Linked DNA regions of Homo sapiens. The protein of the gene in region 1 purifies or fractionates together with the protein of each later gene. This does not show direct contact. Each region holds a gene or a part of one and is shown on either strand. Other genes may lie near its edges. The genes, in order: MAP4, MAP7D1, DYNC1I2, TPD52, WDR62, PLEKHA5 and SLTM.

Evidence for each region.
Region 2: the proteins of MAP4 (region 1) and MAP7D1 purify together in Homo sapiens (affinity purification with mass spectrometry; one large-scale study listed by BioGRID and IntAct). This does not show direct contact.
Region 3: the proteins of MAP4 (region 1) and DYNC1I2 fractionate together in Homo sapiens (co-fractionation; one large-scale study listed by BioGRID). This does not show direct contact.
Region 4: the proteins of MAP4 (region 1) and TPD52 fractionate together in Homo sapiens (co-fractionation; one large-scale study listed by BioGRID). This does not show direct contact.
Region 5: the proteins of MAP4 (region 1) and WDR62 purify together in Homo sapiens (affinity purification with mass spectrometry; one large-scale study listed by BioGRID and IntAct). This does not show direct contact.
Region 6: the proteins of MAP4 (region 1) and PLEKHA5 purify together in Homo sapiens (affinity purification with mass spectrometry; one large-scale study listed by BioGRID and IntAct). This does not show direct contact.
Region 7: the proteins of MAP4 (region 1) and SLTM purify together in Homo sapiens (affinity purification with mass spectrometry; one large-scale study listed by BioGRID and IntAct). This does not show direct contact.

Annotation. Positions count from the first base shown.
Region 1 is NC_000003.12:47,908,417-47,911,916, forward strand, and holds part of MAP4 (microtubule-associated protein 4), read right to left. Parts: coding exon 622-3,500; intron 1-621. UniProt on the Homo sapiens protein: Non-neuronal microtubule-associated protein. Promotes microtubule assembly.
Region 2 is NC_000001.11:36,159,160-36,162,659, reverse strand, and holds part of MAP7D1 (MAP7 domain-containing protein 1), read right to left. Parts: intron 1-3,500. UniProt on the Homo sapiens protein: Microtubule-stabilizing protein involved in the control of cell motility and neurite outgrowth. Facilitate microtubule stabilization through the maintenance of acetylated stable microtubules.
Region 3 is NC_000002.12:171,686,147-171,690,268, reverse strand, and holds the start of DYNC1I2 (cytoplasmic dynein 1 intermediate chain 2), read right to left. Parts: upstream 2,801-4,122; 5' UTR 2,642-2,800; intron 2,515-2,641; exon of another isoform or gene 2,396-2,514; intron 123-2,395; 5' UTR 114-122; coding exon 6-113; intron 1-5. UniProt on the Homo sapiens protein: Acts as one of several non-catalytic accessory components of the cytoplasmic dynein 1 complex that are thought to be involved in linking dynein to cargos and to adapter proteins that regulate dynein function.
Region 4 is NC_000008.11:80,165,065-80,168,564, reverse strand, and holds part of TPD52 (tumor protein D52), read left to right. Parts: intron 1-3,500.
Region 5 is NC_000019.10:36,099,897-36,102,752, reverse strand, and holds part of WDR62 (WD repeat-containing protein 62), read right to left. Parts: intron 2,006-2,856; coding exon 1,878-2,005; intron 1,540-1,877; coding exon 1,436-1,539; intron 1,090-1,435; coding exon 979-1,089; intron 740-978; coding exon 602-739; intron 17-601; coding exon 1-16. UniProt on the Homo sapiens protein: Required for cerebral cortical development. Plays a role in neuronal proliferation and migration.
Region 6 is NC_000012.12:19,373,817-19,376,900, reverse strand, and holds the end of PLEKHA5 (pleckstrin homology domain-containing family A member 5), read right to left. Parts: intron 1,371-3,084; coding exon of another isoform or gene 1,336-1,370; 3' UTR 501-1,335; downstream 1-500.
Region 7 is NC_000015.10:58,888,680-58,892,179, reverse strand, and holds part of SLTM (SAFB-like transcription modulator), read left to right. Parts: intron 1-1,718; coding exon 1,719-1,899; intron 1,900-2,625; coding exon 2,626-2,750; intron 2,751-3,500. UniProt on the Homo sapiens protein: When overexpressed, acts as a general inhibitor of transcription that eventually leads to apoptosis.

The DNA.
Region 1 (3,500 bases):
AAGCAACAAACTGGTCAAAAAATGTATCTGTATCATTGAGAGATCATTTCCCATTACTAGAAACACAAATAAATCGGTGCCTACCAATGCTGGTTTGAGGCCACCATTTCCTCATAAGGAGGTGGACTGATTTCATTTAACCTAAAAGCAGTTTGGATATTTAGTCCCACCAGCACAAGCTACATATAAATTGAAAAAAATCTCATGCACATAGCTAGACATGAAATATTTTCTTTCCTCCTGTGAATCCTTATACCAAGTAATGATTAAAATTTAGCTGTAAACTTGATACATAGGAGGCACAATTTTAAAAAAATTAAGAAATGGATGATGATAGGTCTTTTGTTAGACAATTCATTGAAAATTCAACTTCCCCTAAAATTCAACGTTCAGTGCTGGGTAAAAAAGGCATGCAACCAAGTTACCAGCCTCCTCAAGCAGGACACAAGGAACACATTGGCTGCAGAAAACACACCGTAGCAGTTATAGGTTTCATGCCAACAAACCAATGATTAACAAGGATGATTAGAGTCTGGATGGAGCCAAGACACAAGCTCTTTGCCTTTCTGATGCTGACTCAAAAGCCACAAGCACACACATTTCCCCATGGCAGGTTCATACCAGCGGACTTCAGTTGCTTATGTCTCTCTTGTTCCTGGATTGTAGACTTTGGCAAAAGTGGAGTAAGTCCTCGGGACTTGGTGGGTCTCATGTAGCCTTTCATTGGTTCTGCCATTCTGCTTTTATCTTCCTTTTTCCCTTCTCCTGGTGTCTTTGATTCAGATTTTTCTGTCATTTTCTGAGGTGTCTCCAAAATCTTATCTTTGGGTTCTGGGAGTCGAACACCCTTGGAAGCAGTCATTATTACTAACGTATCCGCCACCTCTGAAGGAGGAGCTTCGACTTTGCTATGTAAGAAATCTGACTGGATTTCTGGTGTTGGCAAGGAAACGCTTTCCAATTCCGTGATTTTACAAGCCAGACTAATTTCTTTCAATTTATCATTTTCACTTTTTGGAGACAAAAGAGTCAGATCTACCTTCTTATTCAAACTATCTGAACCTTTGGAATTTCTATCTTGAGCATTTTGGTCCTCACAAAAACTGAGCTTTTGTGCTTTGTCTTCCAGTAAGTCAGGAATCTGAACTGCAACAGACCCTTCTTTAGTCTCTTTCTCTTCATTCACTGGATGTGCTGGGAAATTACCTCTATCTGCATATCCTTCTAGGGCTCTGGCCTCTCCTGGTAGGCTCTGGTCTTCTACTGGCACTCCAGGAAGGAGGTGACCTTTTGCTAGCTCTGTGACTTTCTCTACTGAATGCTTAGACGCACCACTGTGCACTGACTCAGATTCTCCTATCACATGCCCTTCATCGATCCCTGCTTCATTTTTCATGGAATCAGCAAGCTCAGCTTTATTCTTAAGAGAGTGATCTCCATGAATGTTAACTGTTTCTATGGCTGTTGTAATAGGTAGAGCAACTCCTCCTGTGCTTGTAGAGGGCACAACAGCAGAGGGACCCTTGGGTCTTTCTTGACCTGGGACTCCATCTTTGGTGTAGTTATCTACCATTAATGATTTGGAAATCTGGGCTGGGGCTATCTCTTGCCCATTTTTTGCCAAGGTATCTGGAAAGGAATCACCTTCCTTTACTACTTGAGGAGTAGGAGTGGGCAGTTTTTCACAGGCTGCTGATTCCAGAACCTCTAGAGGAGATGATTTATTTATCAGCTCTGATGGTGTTCTGGGACAGGTAAATGTAATATTTCTATTTTCGTCCATATAGGCCATTCCTTCAATTCCCTGGTCCCCTGTGGTTTCCATGGGAACATGTATTTTTGTTGCATCTATCTTATTCTCCAGAATGTGCTTCTCAGGAGAACTATTTTTAACCTTTTTACTTTTTCCATCATTACTCCTTTTACTTGGTTTGTCAGCCACTGCAGTGTATCTATTGGCTGCATCTGTCTTATTCTCCTCAGATACTACTGAAGGAACAAATCCTGCCCCCTGGATTTGCTCTTGGCAGCTCACATCTGTCACCTTGGCAGGTGGTTCAGTAACAGTAGAAGCCTTGACTGTGCTTATCTTGTTTTCCCCAAGAGTCCCAAGCTCAACAAAATTAACCTGAAAATTTCCACCCTTCCTGTCAACTGCTTCCACTGTGGGTGTATCTGGTGTATGTGAGAACGAAGAATCATGCATTTTGGGGAAAGTAAATCCTATTTCCTTGCTTTTATGGGGAATACTACCAGTATCTCCATCCTTCCCTTCAAAAGGTGGGTTAAGGATTTCTTCCTTCCTCTCCATTCTAGCAGGCTGTGTGGAATAATTATTTTTAAACTTTTTGCTTTTGCCTTCATTGCCTCTCTTTTTAGGCTTTTCAGAAATCCAGGGAGCTGCCTCATGATCCTTCCATGGACACCTTCCTTCCTTGCTCTGGTTATTGACACCCATATCTTTGACTACATCTCCTGTTTCTGTGCTAACACCAGAAGTCTGAGTCATGCCTGATCCACTTTCCAAAGGAATCAATGCCTGCATGGTGCCTGCCACCTTAGGCTGAGTCATCTCTTTAGGCTCCCCCATCACCACTGCCTCCGTGAGATCAGCCTTAGTGCCTGGTTGCTTTGAAGAATTCAGCCCCAGCTCCTCACTCTTATCCTGAGTAGTCATTCCTTCAGTTTTAGAGACTGGCTCACTCGGTATGAGAACAGCCCTTCCGTCCTTCTGGCTGTCCAGAAGAAATGGCAGCTCAGATTTTGCTTTTACCTTCCCAGAATCTGTTCTCATTTTCCCAGAACTTCCCCTTCCCTTCCTGCTTTTGCCATCACCTGCCATTCTCTTAAATGGTTCATTCTCTACCCCAGGGACCTGTACCAACACTTGGCCCTGCAGCTGCTCAGAAGTAAAGATGCTGATCTCTTGTCTTTCGTTGGGAAAAGCTTCCTTTTTTAGTTCTTTATCCTCTTCAGCTCCTTCAGGAAACTCCTTCAGTTTGACATTCTGCAGTTTAGTCATTTTACTTTCATTATTCCCTTCTTTTAGATTACATTCTAATGGATTACTTGCTATCAAAGTGGGTACCAAATTTGGTATTTCTTTTGCTGCTGTGGGTTTTGAAACTACACCCATAACCTCTTGGTCCAAGAAAGGAGAGCAACCCTCTTTAAGTCTGATATCCAAAGGGGTTTCTACATTGTATGCAGAAACTTCTGCTAGGGGTCCTTTCAGATTGAGAGGGCCTACTGACTGGCTTTTATCTACAGGAGTCTTCAGGTGGGGTGCAGGCTGTGGTTTGTATTCATGTTGCTTCAGCAATTTCTTGTCTTGGTTTTGTAGTACTGACTTGTTACTTTTGCTCTCTTCCTCTACTCTCAGCTTAGACTGAGAACTTATTGCAGTTTTGGGGGCTTCTTCAGAAGGATATAAAGGAATTCTGAGACTCTCTGAGACAAAGTTCTCAGCTACCAGTCTGGCTGCACTGGAGTTAACTAAA
Region 2 (3,500 bases), on another chromosome or scaffold:
CTCTAACATAAACCAAGCACTTTCCCTATCCCATTTGATCCTGATGACAATCCTAAAAGGAAAGTTCTATGATGGCCCCCATTTCACAGGTGAGAGAATTTACTCAGACAGATTAAGTGGATTGTTCATGCCAGTGTCAGAGGTAGGATTTGAATCCAGAGTTGTCTGATGACAAAACCCTTAAAACCCTTATGTCATGCTGTTTCTGGTAGGCAGTCACATTACCCCGCCCTGAAGCTCCTGCGTGTTCTCTGAAGAAGGAAGTGATTCCGTGGTTCCCCCAGGGAGACTTCCCCCACAAAAGTGAAGGGTGCAGGTGGGGCAAGCAGGCACTGAGCTCAGAGCACAGGAATGTAGGGAAGGCAGGCTCCTGCCCAGGCTGGCTCCCAAGAGGCGGGAAGTGAGGTAGGGGAGAACAGCCCACCTCCAGGGGCAGCGAGAGGGAGTGCCTGGGTGAGGGCTGGTTGTGGCGTGGGGGGTGCACAGACAGCACCTCAGGCAGGAAGCATGGGAGAGGCAGAGGCACGAGGCCGAGAGAAGACAGAACAGAGATCAGCACCTCTAGCAAGAGCCCTCCTGGCCCTCACTGCAGATTCCTAGGTGACAACACTAGAGCAGGCGAAGACAGAGGCAGGCAGAGGGCAGAGACACATGGGAGACAGACGTGCACACAACAGAGACAGACACCAGACAATGTAAACAGGGCCTGCACAATGGCGAGAGACAAGACATATTCTCCTCTCTCTCTCACACACACACACACACACACACACACACACACATACACACACACACATGCAGAGGAAACAGACTTACTGGGATTCAAAACTCTACACATATCTGAGACACACAGATGTACCCACAGAGTACGGGGCCAGGTACCTCCTCTAAGAAACAGACAAAGCCTCAGAGACACACACAGCACACAGAGACACAATGTCCCCGGAATATTTATACAGCGTCATCCAGGTCACTTCTGCTCCTTCTGAGCAAATTATTTCCCTAGGCCCAGAGAAAGTCCGATTAACAGGAGCAACAGCTAATGCTTTTGTCAGGCACAGCTAAACACATTAAACTCATTAGTTCATTTAACCTTTGCCATAATCCTATGAGGTAGATATTATTACCCCATTTTACAAACGAGGAAACAGGTTCAGAGATTAAGACACTTACTTAAGCTCCACAGCTAGTGAGTAGCAAAGCTGGGGTTTGGACCCAATCAGCATGACGGTCTTTACCCTGCCTGCATCCCAGTGGGGACAGCCTCCTGGGTTCCCTCTCCTGGAGAGATCTGGGCTGGGAGAATAGGAGGTCAGTAGAAAGGGCAAACTCTGGGGAATGCCTAATTGTGGGGCCGGGAGAGGAGGGACCCTTAGGGGGCAGCATTATCCCTGGCCTGGACAGAGCTAAGCCGGCTCCGAGAGGGAGTGCCCTAGGAGAGGGCAGCGTGCTCCAGCAGTTGGGCAGTGGGGCACTGGGACCAGGCCACCGGCTTCTGTGGGTGATAAAGCCGGGAACCCGACTGAGACTACAGATCTGAAGGAGCTCTCTGGCCCGGCTGGCGGCCATTGTTCCCAGCCTCCAATCAGGAGCACCCACTTCCTGTTATTTTAGGCGGCAGGAAATGACCCCATCCCGCAGCCTGGGCCCCACCACATCCCTCCCTCAGCCCCAGCAGGGCTGCCCAGGCTGTTGCCCAGATGCTGAAGGCAGAGGCCCAACCTCAGGCCAAGGCCTGGAGATGCCCCCCCAGCTGGACTATTACCACCACCTGGGTCCGGGGCCTTCCTCCTGGTTCAACTGCTTAGGCTCCAACCTGGCAGGCTTCCCAGAGGACCCTGGGCTCTGCTGGGGCTACCTCTGCCAGCCAGGGAAAAGATTATGGGGTCCCCAAGACCAAGATGCCCACACAGGCCAGTCACGGGAGGGAAGCAGGCCAGACCTTGTCACTGGATAGCTTAGCCATGATAATTCAGCTTAGAGGTTTAGGGCACAGACTTCAGAGTCAGACAGATTTGAGTTCAAATCCTGCCTCTGCCAGTTGCTAGCTGTGTGACTTTAGGTAAGTGATTTCATCTCTCTGAGCCTCATCTGTAAAATGGGGATAATGCTAGTCCCTACTCATGAGACTGTGGTGAGGAACAAATGAGACAATGCCCGTGACATGCTGAGCATTGTGCCTGGCACAGAGAAGGCCCTTAATGAATAGGAGATAATAAGTCAGAGATAATTAATGGGAAATAACTTGGTTCACCGGGGAGTCTCTACCTGGCTCACATCATCTCTTACAACTGCTGAGGAGCGCTAGTAAGGGCAGCAGTACCATGTTCCCTACACCCTCCCAGGCTCTCTGCTCCCTTCAGGGCAGAGCTGCAGCTGAGAAGTGGTGGAGGAAACACTGAAGGCTGTGCCCCTGGGTGCCAGGCAGAGATACCACCAGCCAACAAAGCTGCATTATCTGGGTCTGGCTAGTTGGCTCCCTCACTAGCCCCAAGGCCCAGCAGGGACCTAAGGACATGGGTCCCAGCTGCCCTGTGGCCTAACTTCCAGCCTGGGTCAGACCTGAGACCTGACCTGATGGCCCTCAAGTATGGCCATTCTAGTCTGGGCCCAGCTTTCAGTCCCTTCCCTCAGCCCTTCCCCACTATCATGTTAGGAAAGGGGACCTGAGCTGGCCTAGTATCCCTTCCACCTCATTTGCATATGCGTGACTGCACATTAGGGGCTCATTAGAGGCCTCATTATTGGGCCCACCAGCCCAGGAAGGGACTAGGAAGCTGTCATTGGGAGGTGCCAGCCAGCTGGCTGCTGGATGTATGGCCACAGCCCACTGCGCCAGTCTCACCAACGTCTACTCATCCTTTCAGATCCACCTCAAATGCTGCCTCCTCCGTGAAGCCTTCCACAAGCACAGCCCACTGCACACTAACACCATTATACCTGGTTTCCCTGCAGTGAACACATCTGCCTTCCTCGCCGCGTTAAGAGCTCCCCAAGAGTCAAAACTCCGTCTGATTCACTTCTCTGCCGTCCACATAGACTACACCGAGCTGGCATAAGGTGGGGCATCAGCATGGGTGTGCTGGATAGCCGGTTGCACCTGTTTCTTGGGTCTTCTCTCCTGTTCCCACTGTTCCACTTCAGGTATGGGGCCCCTCCGTTCCCTGGATACACCCTAGCTCATGTCTGCCTAGAACTCCCCTCTCCGCTGCCTTCTTGTCCTATACTTACCTCCTACAATTCTAATCAATCACATCTCAGGCTTCTGACGGAATTAAAAATAATGACAAAAAACAAATAGCTAGGCTGGGGGTGGTGGCTCACGCCTGTAATCCCAGCGCTTTGGGAGGCCAAGGTGGGAAGATCACGAGGTCAGGAGTTCGAGACCAGCCCGGCCAATGTGGCAAAACCCTGTCTCTACTAAAAATACAAAAATTAGCCGGGCGCGGTGGCAGGCGCCTGTAATCCCAGCTACTCGGGAGGCTGAGGCAAGAGAATCG
Region 3 (4,122 bases), on another chromosome or scaffold:
CATACTTCTTTTTTTTTCCTTTCTTCTTCTTTTCTCTTCTTTTCCTCTCTGATTTGGGCCAGTCGCTGCTTCTTACGTTCCAACTCAGCCTTTAATTCACTTTTGTCTGACATGTTTGTGACCTTAGAAACATATAATCATTATGTTAGTAAAAGCAGCACAGTTGAAAAAACTAGTGTTCCAAGAAGAGAACTGTCCCGAAAGGCCATATAGTTCAATGCTATCTCAAAAAAGCACAAAAACCTTACTTTTAAAATAATGGGGCTGGGCAGTAGCTTACTTTGGGAGGCTAAAGTGGGAGAACTGCTTCAGGCCATGAGTTTGAGACCAGCCTGGGCAACAAAGCAAGACCCCATCTCTACAAAAAAAAAAAAAAAAAAAAAAAAGGCAAGAAAAATAAAAAATTAGGCGGCATGGTGGCATGTGCCTGTAGTCCCAACTACTTGGAAGGATTGCTGGAGCCCAGGAAGTCAAGGCTGCAGTGAGCCGTGATCATGCCACTGCACTCCAGCTTGGGCAACAGAGCGTCTCTAAAAAATAAACTTTTAAAAGATAAAATAAAGGAAGCATATATATTATTACTAAGACTTAAAAAATGTATAAACAAATATATATAATAAATATTACCTAGAGCTGAGCATAGTAGCTAGCCCATAGTAAGCACTTTAATGTTCGCATACACAAACTGAACACAATGTCTCAAAGTTTTTGATGACAATATATTAGGTACCCAAGATAAAGGTCAAAACTGGCTCTTAAAACAGAGGACATGGTTTGGCATTTAGAAGCTCTTAAGCTATATGACACAGATCAAAACTATTACCAATTCTATTGCATTCATAGAAACTTGATAAAAAACAATAGGTCAAACTGAACTTTCCTGTAAGTTCTAAAAGTGCTGTAGTAATACTAAAGCAAAACGCAGGAGTTACCATCATTAGCTATCAAATCATATGACTGTATTTCTCCACAATAACACCTTACGTATACCTCTGATGGCACTTTTAGTACAATTATTTGTGGACATACCTGAAATGTTCCCTATTAGATTGTAATGTACTTGAAATCAGGGACTGTTTTTTAGTTATTTTTGTTGCCTTCACAACATCCAGCAGAATGACCTTAACATTACAATTGACACTGGCTAATGAATAATGGATACGGTAGACACAATTACAATCTGAGCTTCAAAAACCAATTGCATAAACACTACTTCAGCTTGAGTTTTAGGAAGAAATAATGAATTAGGATTTTTTTTTTTTAAGTAGCCTAGCAGCTGAGCATAAGGCAGGAGCCAGGAACTCCTTACCTTCTCCACATGATTGACTTATTGCCTAATGATCAATCTCTTTCAATGTCTCTGTACAAGTGAAGTATTAAATGCTTTAGATCAAGAAAACTAGGAGAATAACCTCTGGAAAACTGTATTTCCAGAGGTTAGGGGAAATCTCTTAAAAAGCACAATTGTTAAATCTGAACAAAGGTAAGTCAGTCAAGAGGAGAAATTCACCTACTAAGAAGTGGATAAAGGAAATTTCAGCTACTAAACTCCATTAAGACTGGCAAGCGAATTGATAATTTTCAAGCATACGAAAAGGATGAAAAGTTGACATAGCAGACCTGAAATATATACACAATATCTTCCAAGATTTGTTTGAACAAACTAAAAGCAAGAGACCGTGTTTCTTATTCCACTCTTTCTACACCTCTAAACAGCTCCATACAAACGGCTGGTGAAGAGAACTTCCATACGTAACTGTATGCTACGCTAGGCACATTATATTTTGTTCAACGTCAACTGTAAAACAGATATACCAACACTAATTGATATTAAAATAAGCGCATTTTTAAAGCCCAACAACAAAGTCTTGACCAGCTGAACTACAGCTGACCAATCCTCTCATCCTCACAGAAGCCAGAGCCTTCCTCCATGACCGACATGTTCACGTTCTTAAAACTCAAGAGAAGAGAGTCTCTAGAGTTTTGTGCTAGAACCTCCGTGTTCGGGGGCTTTCCATCACACATAAGGTGAGGGGAGACACTATCAAGGCAAGTAGAGATGGCCTTAATTTGTAAAATGGGGCAAGGCGAAAACGAATCACTTTCTCCCCTGGGGTCACGGCCAAGAGGGCGCGGTCCACGGCAGGGCGTCCGGAAGAAGCCAGTGGGCGCCGGACAAGCCTCAAGGCTCCCCAGGCCGCCTCTGGAGGGTCGAGAAGGGAAAGGAGTGGACTCCTCTCGCCGGGCCGCAATGAGTCACCGCACCCAGGTCTCCCCGCCTTTCCTCCCCAAAGCTGGGCCGGGCGGGGATGTCAGCAGGAACTGCCAAGCCGCCCTTCGAGTTGCGACGTGGAACACAGGCAGGGAGGCCTTGAGGGAAGAACAGTCAACCCACCTGTCAGGTGACTGGATGGGGAAGAGTCCTCCCGCCTGCAACTTCCCGGTAACGTCCCTCGCCTAAGCCCCCAACACCAACTGTAGCCACCACCAGCTCCGCGGCTTTCCAAAGCACACAAAGAGGGATGGGCGGCGGCTGCTACGGCGAGAGCTTAGGGACAAATAGCCTCACCAGAACGAGGTCGCTCCCAGAAATAAAAGGTGGGGCCCTGCTGCGAGGAATTGTAGCCCCTCCGTGACTTACCTGTCGTAAAGCAGAAGCCGGTAGATAAAACAAAGAACCCAGTCAACCCAGGGGCCTTAAGTATTTCCGCTTTGCCAAAAACTGGAAAACTACGCCTAATATTCTCAGGCCAGGAATCCAACTTCCGCCCTCGCCTTACAAACTGACACGATCGAGAAGAACTACAAACCCCGGCAACAAGGAAAACCTGCGTGCGACGAGCAGTGCGTTCTGGGAATTGTGGTCGCTGGGCGTCGCAAGGTGTGCTGGGACATGTAGTGTGTCCCCTCCTTTAGATTTCCCACTCCAAGGCCTTCTTCCGTCGAGAAGCTTCTGTATAAAGTATTCTCGTCTGTTGATCCGTGCCCACAGTGTAGTATGTGTTATAGTGTAAGATCTTTGACCCAATATTGGCGGAATTTTAAGGTCTATTTTCCAGTGGTGAACCTGTGAATCACGCTGCTGCACATTTGGTGAAGACGTGAAGTAGACTGTTTAGGATGTAAAACATTATATATATATATGTACATACATATGTAAGTTTTAGGGAAAGAATGTCTTATATAGGCTTCATGTGGCATCTTAGGCAAAATCTAAATAAAAATATGTCAACTGACATAGCAAATAATTCTTTAGTATTTTGTTGCAGTGTGGTAGCATTTTGGTTTTCTCTCAAACAATTTTAGGAAATAAAGCATTTTGTATTATTGGACTCTCAAACCAAGCTAGAATGTTTTCCACAGTTAGATTTTTAACATACAAAGAAAACAAAAGTTACTGGAACATGAATTTACCTGCAATGTATACATTGACACACCTTTTTAAAGTTTAAATAATTTAAAGCATTATTTGGCAGGAGTTAAAGCTAACACCAAGGTAATATCTTTTCTATGTTCTAGAAAACTGATTGTTCTAGAAGTTCTAGATATTGCCCAAGTCTAGAATGAACCTTTATGATTCAAATTCCAAGTCCTTGGGCTTGTGGTCTTTTTCTTATCTTTCTCTGCCTTATCTGTGGTCTTTTGTGTAGAAAAAAATATTCTAAAAATAAATTTGAGAAAGAAAATCCTTGGCTTTCCACAGCTTTTCCCAATAACCTAACATTCAAAGAGCTTTATAGCTATGTTATTTTTTTACTTCTTTCCTAATAGTTTTCATGTATTAATTTGAAAAAAAATTATTATTGATTGCCTACCATGTGCCAGCAATGGTGATGGGTGTTGTGGTAACAGCTAAAATGGACCAGGCGCAGTGGCTCACACCTGTAATCCCAGCACTTTGGGAGGCCGAGGCAGGCAGATCACCTGAGCTCAGGACTTAGAGACCAGCCTGGGCAACATGGTGAAACCCCGTCTCTACAAAAAATAGAAAAATTAGCAGGGTGTGTGGCATGCGCCTGTAGTCCTAGCTAGTCACGAGGCTGAGGCAGGAGGATGGCTTGCGCCCAGGAGGCGGAGGTTATAGTGAGCTGAGATTACACAATTGCATTCCAGCCTGGGAGA
Region 4 (3,500 bases), on another chromosome or scaffold:
GCTGAAATAAGGTTTATCAAACTCTGTGATTGTCTCCTGAATTGTGATTTTGGCAACATACTTAAAACCAAAGCAGAAAATTTTAGGATTTGTTGAACTTTTAATAGTTTTTAATGTACATGGAGTTTTCTTATATTTGTCCCTTAAAAAATCCCTAATGAAACTCTAGTTGTAAAATTAAATGCCCTACCTCTTGTCTTACATGCATTTATCTATTGAAAATCCCTCTTCCAACCTTCTTATGTGAAGTTATCAAAAAATCTGTTCTTGCTACTGATTGTACTTAACAGAGCTGTAAATTTTTAAAATAAACACTGAGTTTTCCTTATGTTTTCAACCACGAGTATTCTAATGCTCTGTAGTATCAGGCCCAGATTCTGTTGTTTTTCTACTTTCTCTCATACCTAGGGCTTGAATACAATACTCTGCTTACAGTGAGAGTTCAGTGAACATCAAATGATTTAAAATACGTTAAATTGCATCATGCCTTTCAAGAGTTTCCAAGCATTAAGCTCAGCGCAGCACATTTACTGTGTGTGGTATTTCCTACTTTGATAGAGCAGTGTTGCTAACTAGAGCATACATTGTGTAGAAAACCCTCCTGACTACCTTTTATGGAGCTGAATAAATATGTATACTTGAGTGCTCTCATGTTAGTCATAACCTTTAGTTTAGCACTGTTATATAGAAGTGACAGTCACGTAGCCCACTACACATTATACTAGTTTGAATTTAAACAAAGCAAAACAACTTTATAATTTTAAGGGGAAGAGGAATGGTTCCTGAGGCCAAAAAACTAGAGAGGAAAGGCTTCAAAAAAAGAATAACACAATAATATGTCACTATCATTTTAACATTGTAATTGTGCCTTAGAAATAAATAACAGAAATGTGGGGTATCATTTATTTAAAAATAAAGCAAATGTAGAGAATAATGGATAATAATTTTGAGGGTCTACTCCCAAGTCTCTGGGTGTGACCCACCCCATCCAGGCTGTTAATTTATTTGGTCAACAGTTTCGTGATTTCCATATGGTGCTGATGTCTTTGTTAGCTCTTCTTCACTTCCTGCATTTATTTTTATGTGGCAGGCTGCCTAGTCCCTAGGGGAATAGCTGAGTGGTAGGAGGGGTTGTGATCTTTTAGCAAGATTTCAAAACAGAATAATGTATGCATGTAATAAAAACAAATACGCTCACTCACAGTGCAAAACCAAAAAGAACACCCAAATCCCTGGAACTTCTGTGCTACTAAGTCTTTTGTTGTAGGCTAAGATTATTTTCCTTTTGGGGTTAATTATTTCTGCCTTAATTATTGACTGTTGTGAAATCTCTCTTCTGAGACATTCCCAAATTTTATTTAAACTAGTGGGTACCAGCTGTACTGAAACCATAATTTTAGCCATGTATTTTTATTAGAAAAATGTTTCCAGGGGATTAAGGAATTTTAATATTTAGTGGAAGTTTTAAAAAAGAATGTAAAAATGCCTTTTGGAACCTAAGAATAGTTGTCTATTTTAGAAAAATCAGAAATATTGATGGAGAAAAAAGAAAATTACCCATAATCCTGTGCGAGAATGAGAAATCATAGTTAGCATATTAATTTATACCTGTTCATGTATCTATGCTTTAAACAAATCACAATTTTATTATTATTTTTTTTAACAGTGTCTCGCTCTGCCACCCAGGGTGGAGTGCAGTGGCGTGATCTCGGCTCACTGCAACCTCTGCCTCCTGGGTTCAAGCAATTCTCCTGTCTCAGCCTCCCAAGTAGCTGGGACTACAGGCGCATGCCACGACACCCAGCTAATTTTTTTGTATTTTTAGTAGAGATGGGGTTTCATCATGTTGGTCAGGCTGGTCTCGAACTCCTGACCTCAGGTGATCTGCCCTCATTGGCCTCCCAAAGTGCTGGGATTACAGGCGTGAGCCACTGTGCCCGGCCAACAAATCACAAAATTTCTTATTGAATATTGCATTTTATAACTTGCCCTTTTAAAAAAACCCTAAATGTATTTAAAAAATACACTTTAATGGCCGCATGTGGTGGCTCATGCCTGTAATCTCAGCACTTTGGGAGGCCAAGGCGGGCGGATCACCTGAGGTCGGGAGTTGGAGACCCGCCTGACCAACATGGAGAAACCCTGTCTCTACTAAAAATACAAAATTAGCCGGGTGTGGTGGCATATGCCTGTAATCCCAGCTACTAGGGAAGCTGAGGCGGGAGAATCGCTTCAACCTGGGAGGCGGAGGTTGCAGTGAGTCTCTCTCTCTTGCCCAGGCTGGAGTGCAATGGCACCAATTTGGCTCACTGCAACCTCCACCTCCTGGGTTCGAGTGATTCTCCTGCCTCAGCCTCTTGAGTAGCTGTGACTACAGGCGTGTGCCTCCACGCCATAATTTTTCTATTTTTGTAGAGATGGGTTTCATCATGTAGTCCAGGCTGGTCTCGAACTCCTGGCCTCAAGTGATCCTCCCGCCTCAGCCTCCCAAAGTGCTGAGATTACAGGTGTGAGCCACTGCGCCTGGCCTAGAGCAGCTCCATTTTTAATGGCCATTTGTATGTATTTATTTATAGATGTAACATTTTATATACTGTTATAGACAATATTTAACTTGTTCCCTGTTGATGAACATTTACATTTTGCCTTGTAGGGGAGGAAAAATTTCTCCCTACCCTTTTAGGGTTTCTGGCGAGGCCTAGGAATTAAACCAACATGAGATAGATTAACAGGAGAAAAGCATGCAAATTTTATTTAGTGCTTTTTATGTATTACATACCTTTTACCCTCACAAGAGGAATGAAGACTCAAGGAAGTGGCTTGGCCTGATCGATTATATACTAGGTCAAAAAAAGAGTGGCAGTTGTGGAAAAGTAACTAGGAAGGTAAGGTTTAGTTTAGCAAGGTTTCTTTATGCAGATTTCTTTGGGCTTGGACTTCCTGTGATAAGAATGTTTCTTTCTTCCTGGTAGAGGGAGGACATCTTTCATATGGGAGCTTCATCTTCTGCTTTCAGGAAAAAGAGAGGAGGTTTGGGTGCCCTTCTTAACACCTGCTGTTTTTCAAGTGCCTTTAGCCCAAAATAATCAGCATGCTAAAGTGGAATGTTTTGGGATGCTGTGTCCTGAACTCCTTCACCCTGATATTTTGCTGTTAAAACAAAGCTGCAGCAAATGTATGTGTATGCAAGTCATTCCATAAAAATGCCAGTGTGTCTGTAGGAAGAATTCTTAGAAGAATGTGGCTGTTCAATTTTGATAGTGCCAAATTCTGCTCCATAGAAGTGGTGCCAGTTATACTTCCACCAGCATGTGCGAGCGTTTGCTTTCCCTTGCCATGTGGCCAGGATGTTGCCACACTTTTCCATTGTTGCTTGTCTTATAGGGGAAAAATGGTTTCTCAGTATAAGTCTTACTATATATATTTAATATAAAGGTAGTTTACTTCTTTTGATATGTTTACAATCTACATGGCATTTTCTGTGAAATATCTGGCCATAT
Region 5 (2,856 bases), on another chromosome or scaffold:
GCTGCGGGGAAGAGCTCTAGGGGAAGATCCCGAGGGGACCCTCATAACCCTTCCCGCCGAGCAGCCCTGGCCCTAGGCCAGCCCACAGCCCAGCGGGGCACTCCCCAGAAACCCTTATGTACAGACACAGGGTACGAGCAGGGGCAGTGGGTGAGGAGGCATCGTGAGGCTCAGGTCAAGAGTGAAGCAGTGGGCCGGGCACGGTGGCTCACGCCTGTAATCCCAGCACTTTGGGAGGCCAAGGCGGGCAGATCATCTGAGGCAGGAGTTTGAGACCAGTCTGGCCAACATGGTGAAACCTCATCTCTACTAAAAATACAAAAAATTAGCAGGGCGTGGTTGTGGATGCCTATAATCCCAGCTACTCAGGAGGCTGAGGCAGGAGAATTGCTTGAACCAGGGAGTCGGAGGTTGCAGTGAGCCAAGATTGGGCCACCGCACTCCAGCCTGGCAACAGAGCGAGACTCCGTCTCAAAAAAAACGAAGCAGTTGCTCTCCACTCACCCTCCTGGCCCTGCTGGGGAGCCAACTCCAGGGACGCCAATGCTGTGCCCAGGCTGCACAGACGGCCTCGGCAGGTGTGGGTGAGGCAGGGCCCTACCTCTGCAGGGGGACTCAGTCAGTGTCTCAAAGTGGTGGCGGAGGAACTTCTCCTGCTCCGGAGTCTGGGGTAGGGAGCTGCTGGGGACGCTGGGTCCCTCGGGCAGGGACAGCTCATCTTCTGTGGGACCTGCGCATCCTGACAGGGAAGGAGGGGAGGGACAAGAGGAGCCAACACCATGAGTCACAGCAGACGCCACCTGAAATGGAGAAAGCGGGCCCCACCCATCCCTGCCCTGTTGCCCGCAGGCTGAGAAGCAGGGATCCCCGTCTTCCAGGCTCAGTGGGCTCCAAGTGCAGGGCCTGTGCTTAGACATTGTGACTGGCCCTAAGCCAGGCCCGAGCAGCGAGTCCCCTGCGTGTCTGGCCCCTGCTTACCTGGGAAATGGGGCAGCGACGTGGCAAACCGAGGGGCAGGGTCAGGAGGCGGAGCTGGGGAGTGGATGGCTGCGAAGCTGCACTCCAGGTCGGCCTCTGACTCCCCCGAGTCTGAAGGACAGAGTCGGGGTCAGGAGCCCACAGCCTGACCATTCTGGTGAGCCAGGGCCAGGGCTACCCTTCCCTGGGCTCAGTTTCCCCATCTGGAGGAGGGATGGTAAGAGCAGCTGCCCCCCATTTTATGAATAAGGGAAGTTCCACATCAAGGAGGTGGCAGAGCTGGGCTCTCAGCTGTAGGCAGCTGGGCCCAGAATCCTCAGGCAGCAGCAGGGACCACATGTGTCTTCCTCGACAGACTCTGAGCTTCAGTACTGGGTCAAAGTCACCATCGGTGCCCAGAAAGGGGCTTGGCTGAACGCACAGACTGTCACAGGGTCCCTGCCTGCCCTGCACTCACCCTCAGGCGGGCTCTGGTCCTTTGGGCTGTCGGAGGACACCCTGAGGTAGGAGTCGCCCTGCTGGTCTCCAGGCCCGGCCTCCACCTCCTTCCTGCAATACTGGCTGCAGTGCCAGTGGGGGCAGAGAGGGAACAAGGACTTCAGCTGGAGACTCAACAGCTAGCCCCACCCGGAGCCCCTAGGCACCTGTACCCGCTGCTCCTGCAGGAGCACTGCGACAGCCTCCCCGCCTCCTCCAAATGCCCCCTCCTTCCCCCAGGTCAGGCCCTCCTGTACCCCACCTGGAACCAGGGAACTAAGGCTGGGCTCCTGCCCCATCCAGGCCTCAACTGTCCCCACTCCCACAAGCCCACTGGGAAGGCAGAGAGCACTTCTTCCAGGATGCAGCTATCAGCTGGGGGTTCCTCCAACTAAGGCTCCCTTGGTGGAAAGGACACCCACCTGTCTGTCCCTGTGACTGTCACTTCTGCCTCCAGAGAGTAGAGGATGAGCTCACTGGCCTCAGATGATTCCTTCTGCTGGGGCAGGAAGGAGGGGTGCCCGCGGCCAGCTTCCTGGGGACTCTCTGACTATGGGGAAGACAGCACAGCCATTCTGAGGCAGGCATGGCTGGGGCCACCAACAGTGCGCCAGGAACCATGCCAGCAGCCCCACTGCTGGAGGCTGTGAACCAGGGCCTGTGCCATGCCCTCCACTCGCAACCAGCTTGTCCTGGTCTGCCCCTGCATTATCAGTCCCTTTACAGATGAGGAAGAGGTGTGGCACCAAAAATAGGAGGCCCAACCCTCTACGTGTCTATTTATATCAAGTTCAAGAATAGGAAACCCAGTCCTTGGTGAGAGGTCAGAACACTGGTTATCCTGGTGCGGGGACCTGACTGGGAAGGGCAGAAGGGGGTTTCTATGAGGTAGAAAACACTCCAGATTTTGCCCAGGGTAGTGGACACACGTGAATTACACAGATAGTTCATCAAGCTGTATACCTAAAATCTGTGCATGTTACTGGATGTATATTATACCACAATGAAGATGACAAATTATAGGATAGGATAAAAATGAATTTTGTTTGGAAAATAGTAGAGAAAGAGCTAAAGTTGCACGGGCACCTCTAAGAGCCCAGGCCCTATACTTAAGCATGGATTCCTGTAAAAGCCCTCTGGGGCAGAAGAGATTGTTATTACCATTTAAAAACAAAACAAACAAAAAAATTTAAAAAATATTTTTGTAGAGGTGGGATCTTGCTACGTTGCCTAGGCTGGCCTTGAACTCCTCAAGTGATCGTTAAGTAATCCTCCTGCCTTGGCCTCCCCAAATGCTGGGATTACAGGTGTTAGCCACTGCCCCTGACCCCATTATGACTACTTTTTAGAAGACTGAAGCCCAAAGAGGTAAGCCTCTTACTCCAGGTCACACAACAGGAA
Region 6 (3,084 bases), on another chromosome or scaffold:
TGAAGAGCGTGAACATCTGCAAAGAATGTATTGTAAGAGAAAATGATCTCTGAGGGTCCTACTTACGATGAAACGGTTTCTAGCTACCCATGTCAGACAAACAGCTGCCTTACACACCTCTCTCAAAGTCCAATCCCTAAACAGAGCAGGACTACTGATGCTTGAAGTTACTTTCTGAAACATGGAAGCAAATAGAAACGTGGTAAAAGACTTCACAAAACTAAACTCCTCTAGTGGTAATGAGCTAATGTAATGTACTTAGAGAAAAAGTCAGAAAAAACTATAGTCTGGTCAAAATTCTGTCATTAAATTGTGGCCAACTCAATTGATCTCTTTGAGCCTCAAGGTCCTCAACTTTGACATGGGAGGGTTGGACCGACAAGGATCTTTTAAGATGTTGTCTAGGATTATAAAATTAACAGAGTACCTTTTCTTCTAGAGGTCTCTTGAGTCTTAAGACTTTCAATTTTGGATGGAAAGAACAAAAATTCTAACACTGATTTAAGAACATCAACATTTATTTAACATGATAAAAAAAGAAATGAGATATGAACATTTGCATTTAAACAATAGTAAGTAGCCTTTAATACATTACATGTGCTCATTGTATAATATATACACAATGAACATAATTACATTTGTACACAAACTAAGTACCGGATTTGGAAACCTGCTTATTGCTGTACACATGTATTCCAATGAAATATAAGCCCAGTACTTCAAAATACCTACACTTTGTTTTTTTTTTTTTTAAGAAAAGATAAGCAGTAACATTTGTGTTTAAGCTGACAGGAGTGTGGCAGTAACTGCTGACATTGCAATCTGACCGAGAAAGAATTATAGCAGAAAACAGGACATACTTCACTTAGCAATAAAATGGCACATTTTAAATACATATATATAAAATTTTTACAAATCAAGTGTGAAACAAAAGCACTGCAGTAGCTAAAATGGGAAGAAAAAAAAGAAAACAAGCTTCAATGGAAATAATAACTAACTTTAGAAAATGAAAAGCAAAAAAATATATATATAAATTCACCTAGACTTAAGAAACATCGAAATCTGGAAATCAGCAACTAAGTAAGCTCTGGAAATAGACTGCACATTAAAAAGCACCTTTACTTATGTGCTCTGAAATCATAGCAGCAAGCTGGTGTCAGAATAATAACCTTGAGATTACGAAGTGTACATATGGGCCATTAAAGCTGTTTTGGAATAAACATTTTCCAGAAGTGATAAAATGATGCTCTGTGACCAAAAGCATCAGAACTATGAATTTCATAGATTTAAAATATACTGTACAATATCTTCTTACACTGCTGAAGGTCCATGTCTTTAGCTTTGAATGGTTTCAACAGAAGTCAGTATAGCTGAAAAATAAGAGAGAGGAAATTACTTTGACACCTGCAACGTTAATTAATTACCATTTCCCAAAGTAACTAAGGGTGACATTCTGTAACAACAGAACTGACAAGCATGGCCATGAAAATCCTAAAATACAATACATCAAAGGATATTTTTCTTCATTTCCATAGCTTAATTCACAAAGCAAAGAAACATAATGCAATTTTTTTTTTTTGAGACAGGGTATCACTATCGCCTAGGCTGGGGTGCAGTGGTATGATCCCGGCTCTCTGCAACCTCTGCGTCCTGGGTTCAAGCGATTCTCCTGCCTCAGTCTCCCAACTAGCTGGGATTACAGGCACATATCACCATGCCTGGCTAATTTTTGTATTTTTAGTAGAGACGGGGTTTCACCATGTTGGCCAGGCTGGTCTCGAACCCCTGGCCTCAACTGATCTGACTGCCTTGGCCTCCCAAAGTGCTAGGATTACAGGCATGAGCCACTATACCCGGCCCCACAAGGAAACATAATGTAATGCAATTCTTCTTCCTTCCTCCTCCTCCTCCTTCTCTTCATTATTATTATTATTATCATCATTTTGGAGACGGAGTCTTGCTCTGTTGCCCAGGGTGGAGTGCAGTGGCACGATCTCAGTTCACTGCAACCTCTGCCTCCTGGGTTCCAACAATTCTCCTGCCTCAGCCTCCTGAGTAGCTGGGACTACAGGTGCACATCACCACATCCAGCTAATTTTTTGTATTTTAGTAGAGACGGGGTTTCACCGTGTTGCCCAGGCTGGTCTCAAACTCCTGAACTCAGGCAATCCGCCCGCCTCGGCCTCCCAAAGTGCTAGGATTCCAGGTGTGAGCCACTGCACCTGGCCTTCTTATTATTTTTGAGACTGAGTCTCGCTCTGTCGCCCAGGCTGGAGTGCAGTGGCGCAATCTTGGCTCACTGCAACCTCCACCTCCCGGGTTCAAGTGATTTTCCTGCCTCAGCCTCTAGAGTAGCTGAGACTACAGGTGCATGCCACCACGCCCAGCTAATTTTTGTATTTTCAGTAGAGACGGAGTTTCAACCATGTTGGCCACAATGGTCTCGATCTCCTGACCTTGTGTTCCGCCCGCCTCGGCCTCACAAAGTGTTGGGATTACAGCCGTGAGCCACTGTGCCCGGCCAACATAATGTGATTATAAATAGCAATACAGAATAAAAAATGTACCGCTGGCAACGGCAACCCCCTTTGGGTCCCCTCCCATTTTAGGGGAGCTCTGTTTTCACTCTATTAAATCTTGCAACTGCAAAAAAAAAAAAAAAGTACCAAACGTAGCTGAATCCAAAAGATCAACAAAATGAGCAAACATTTGCATAACTCCACTAAAATACGTAATAATTATTGAGCTGCCTACATCGTAGTGTCATTTGTAAAGGTTTCCTAAATCCTGCCAAAACCACTAGTTCAGAAAGATGGCATATGCATAATAGGAAGATATGAAATAATACAAGTTTTCATGCCTTTAGTTATTTGTGGTAGTTGCATACCATGAGACTAGAAAATATCCGACAATAATCATACCTCATTACAGTATGCCACTGCTCTTGGAATAAGAAGAAAACAAAATAAAATCCTATAACAATTTAAGGAACCTGGAAATATACTTGAGTTTTAACTCTGAATATCCTTTATTATTGGAAGGATATGTGTACAGTCATAATCTGTTTATTGAATCAAAATATTA
Region 7 (3,500 bases), on another chromosome or scaffold:
TTCAAATGTTAAGCTGTCTTGTCCAGGGGTTACTTATCATGGGATTTCATCCATTCATTGACGACAGCGTTAGGAACTACCAGAGATACTTTTAGCAACTTAGATTATTCTGTACAATAATTGACACACAACTTTACTAAAAGGAAGTAATCCTTGTAGCACATAGAACCCATTTTCTCTTTTTTAAGATGAAGTCCAAATGTGCCTAGCTTCCTGTGTATTTAGTTGACAACAGATTGAGAGGAGAGTGGGATTGAGGAGCAACTAGACCAGTGATTCTCAAACCCTATGTGACCAAATTCCCTTTTATATTAAAAAAAGTTGCAATGCCTTTACTCTCCTGAAATGAAATTGATGTATAACATACTTAAGCTATACTAACAATTTCAAAAAAAGAAAAAAATGTAATGGCTTAACTATAATATAAAGGAGAAATAAAAGTAATTTATAATAAAAATATGTATTCCAGATATGAAGGTTTAGGCATGACTTAATGAAGTAGTCAGATGTTTGCATCCCTATTTAGACTCACTGAGAATGGGACAGCTTCAAATACAGACTGACGTTGTATGTCATTTAATATGTTGTATTGGTTAGTAAATACCAGAAGTAGTGTTGACATTATGACATGATTTCTGAAATGGTGAGCAACTCTTGGTAAAAGTCGCAAGAAAGTATAATTTTCCTTCTATTTATATGGAGTTGCATTATTGGAAATTCTAGATTATAGAAATAATATCAAAGCAAACAGTATTTATTAAAAATGGGGTTGAGTTCTAGACTGACATATTATTTTTGCTTAAGGTGTTTGGTTGTTTTTAATGGTGTGCATGTCCGTTGTGGCATCTGAAAGGTATGAGAGGTGTTGGATGGTTCTTGTTGTGTACGACTATCCTCACTATTCCATGCATCAATAAGATACTTAGATACCTTCATCCTCATACACTAAACACTAGTATCTGCCCCATGGTCATTGTGATAATTAAAAATATCCCATTGATTTCTGTAGAAATAGTACTGACCCATTGAGAACCACTGGGTTACTAGAGAAAGACATGCTGATGACAGAAAAGGATGCTGACTACCTTACAGTAAGAAAATAACATTAAAAGTCTAATACAATAACAATTCAGTTCAGTGAACAATTGAACTACCTCTGACTCAGAAAAGCATGTTACCTGGAGCCATCTATTATAGGATAGTAAACATTCCAAAATAGCCCTTAAGGACACCATTTTGTTATATGTAGTATTTGCTATTATTGATGTTCATTGTTATGATCCCAAATCATCAAAGTATGTACTTGTTTAAGGAGATACAATAGAATATATAATAGGGATTAGAGCTTTTTCCATCAAAAACAAGTGTTGGAAGTTGTAGTTTTGTAAATTTACATATGCAGATTACATCCTTCTAAAATGTCAATTAATTAATGGACTATTATAGTAATTTTTATTTAAACAGGAATCATCTAAGAGGCAACTACTCTATATTATAAAATTTAGCTGCTCAGTTGACAGTCTTATTTATAGATAAGTGAAAATATTGGGATCTGTTTAAAGTTTTACTTTGAATTCTCTTTCCAATTACATTAAAACTACTTAGATTGAGTTGAAATTTAAAATTGCCAACCTCAAGGAAAAATTCAAATTCAAAGCTATTCTCTTTCACACAGTGCTAGCATAATTTAAGTATTTCTAAATACTGATTTTTGGTAGACGAAGAGAGATTGCAGAGAGAGAGCGTCGAGAGCGAGAACGCATTAGAATAATTCGTGAACGGGAAGAACGGGAACGCTTACAGAGAGAGAGAGAGCGCCTAGAAATTGAAAGGCAAAAACTAGAGAGAGAGAGAATGGAACGCGAACGCTTGGAAAGGGAACGCATTCGTATTGAACAGGTGCAGTCAGAAAATCTTTTCATCTTAAATAACTCACCTTTTTCAGACTCTGTGATTTTAGCCCTAAAACTTGCTTTACTTGTTGTAAAGCGTCTATAGAATGAGTTTAGCTAAGGAGCTTTTAAGTGTCCCTGAAAGATAACAGTGAATTAGGTACTAGTTAAAAATAGAATTAGTAGTGACTTTGTTCTAGATAACTGGTAATAATTCTAGCTCTGCAATATCATGGCAGCCTAATAGTCTGAGCATAGGACTATGAGTCCAGAGTAGTTGTAATCCAGGCTCTGTCACTATCCCAGTCTTAGAAAATAATAACGATTTCCTTACATATTATAGTGGGAATGATTTCCCAAGGCTGGAAGGAAATAATGCCTCTCTTTGCAGAATTGCACCTCAGGGTTTTAAGGCACTTAGTCTCCATGCATATTAAGAATGCTATTTCTAATTCCCTTTAGGTGCTTTTGTTTTAGTCGAATGATTAAACTAAACTTGACCTTCCCAAATACTTGCCAACTTTTACCACCCAGTCCTTGTTATTTTTAATGTTGCAGAACAATAGCTACAGCCTAGATTATTGAAATCAAATTTAGGTGTCATAGGTTTGTGTTTTGCCTGGTCTTTGCTTATGATGGTTTCTTAGCAACAGGATTAAAACAAGGTTGCATGTATACTTATCTTATGTTTTCATTTTGCCTTGGTTGGTTCTTCATTCTGTGTTGTCTGAAGGAACGTCGTAAGGAAGCTGAACGGATTGCTCGAGAAAGAGAGGAACTCAGAAGGCAACAACAGCAGCTTCGTTATGAACAAGAAAAAAGGAATTCCTTGAAACGCCCACGTGATGTAGATCATAGGTAGTTACTCATTTTATTCCTTAACAGTTAACCTTGCTGTTTTATTCCCTTTAGGCTAAGACTAGAGAATTAGAAAGTACAGGCTCCCATCACTGGAATAAAAGTCATGATCAACAGGGATGGGAAGGATTACAGTACTGGGGTAGACCCAGTGCACTAGCAAGTGGGAACAGTCTGTGTTTCTTTCCCTGTCTACCTTTCTGATGCCAAATGTTTTTCATTATGACTGGAAATACATTGTCATAGTAGGCTTCAATAATAATTAAACAGATTTTGAACATTCTTAAAAAGGTAGTGCAGGTAGTATAGAAATGGAAGTCATAAACTTGAGATTGAAAGATAGATTCTATTGTGTGTTTGGATTCATACTTCATATAGATTTAAAAACATAAGTATGCCCATTTAATCTTCTTAACATAAATTCTATGAAACTGAGTTGATTGTGTAGAGAAATAGGTGGAATGAATGAACTGTGCTTCTGACTTACCACTCTAACGTTTCCAAAGTTAAGGATAACTGAAGAGGTTGTGTGAACTGGTTAGAATTTTATTATAAAGTGGTTTCAGGTATTTTATTTGTCTTTTCCATTTAATGGTATCATTTCTCCTGAATGCTAAATGTCTTTTCCATTTAATGGAAAAGACAGGCAGTTTTTCAACTATTTTCTCTCCTGTTAAATTCCTCTCACACTATTTGACTTTATGTAATTCAACAATTAAGTCTTTGCTAGTTTGTACTCCTGATGTGTTA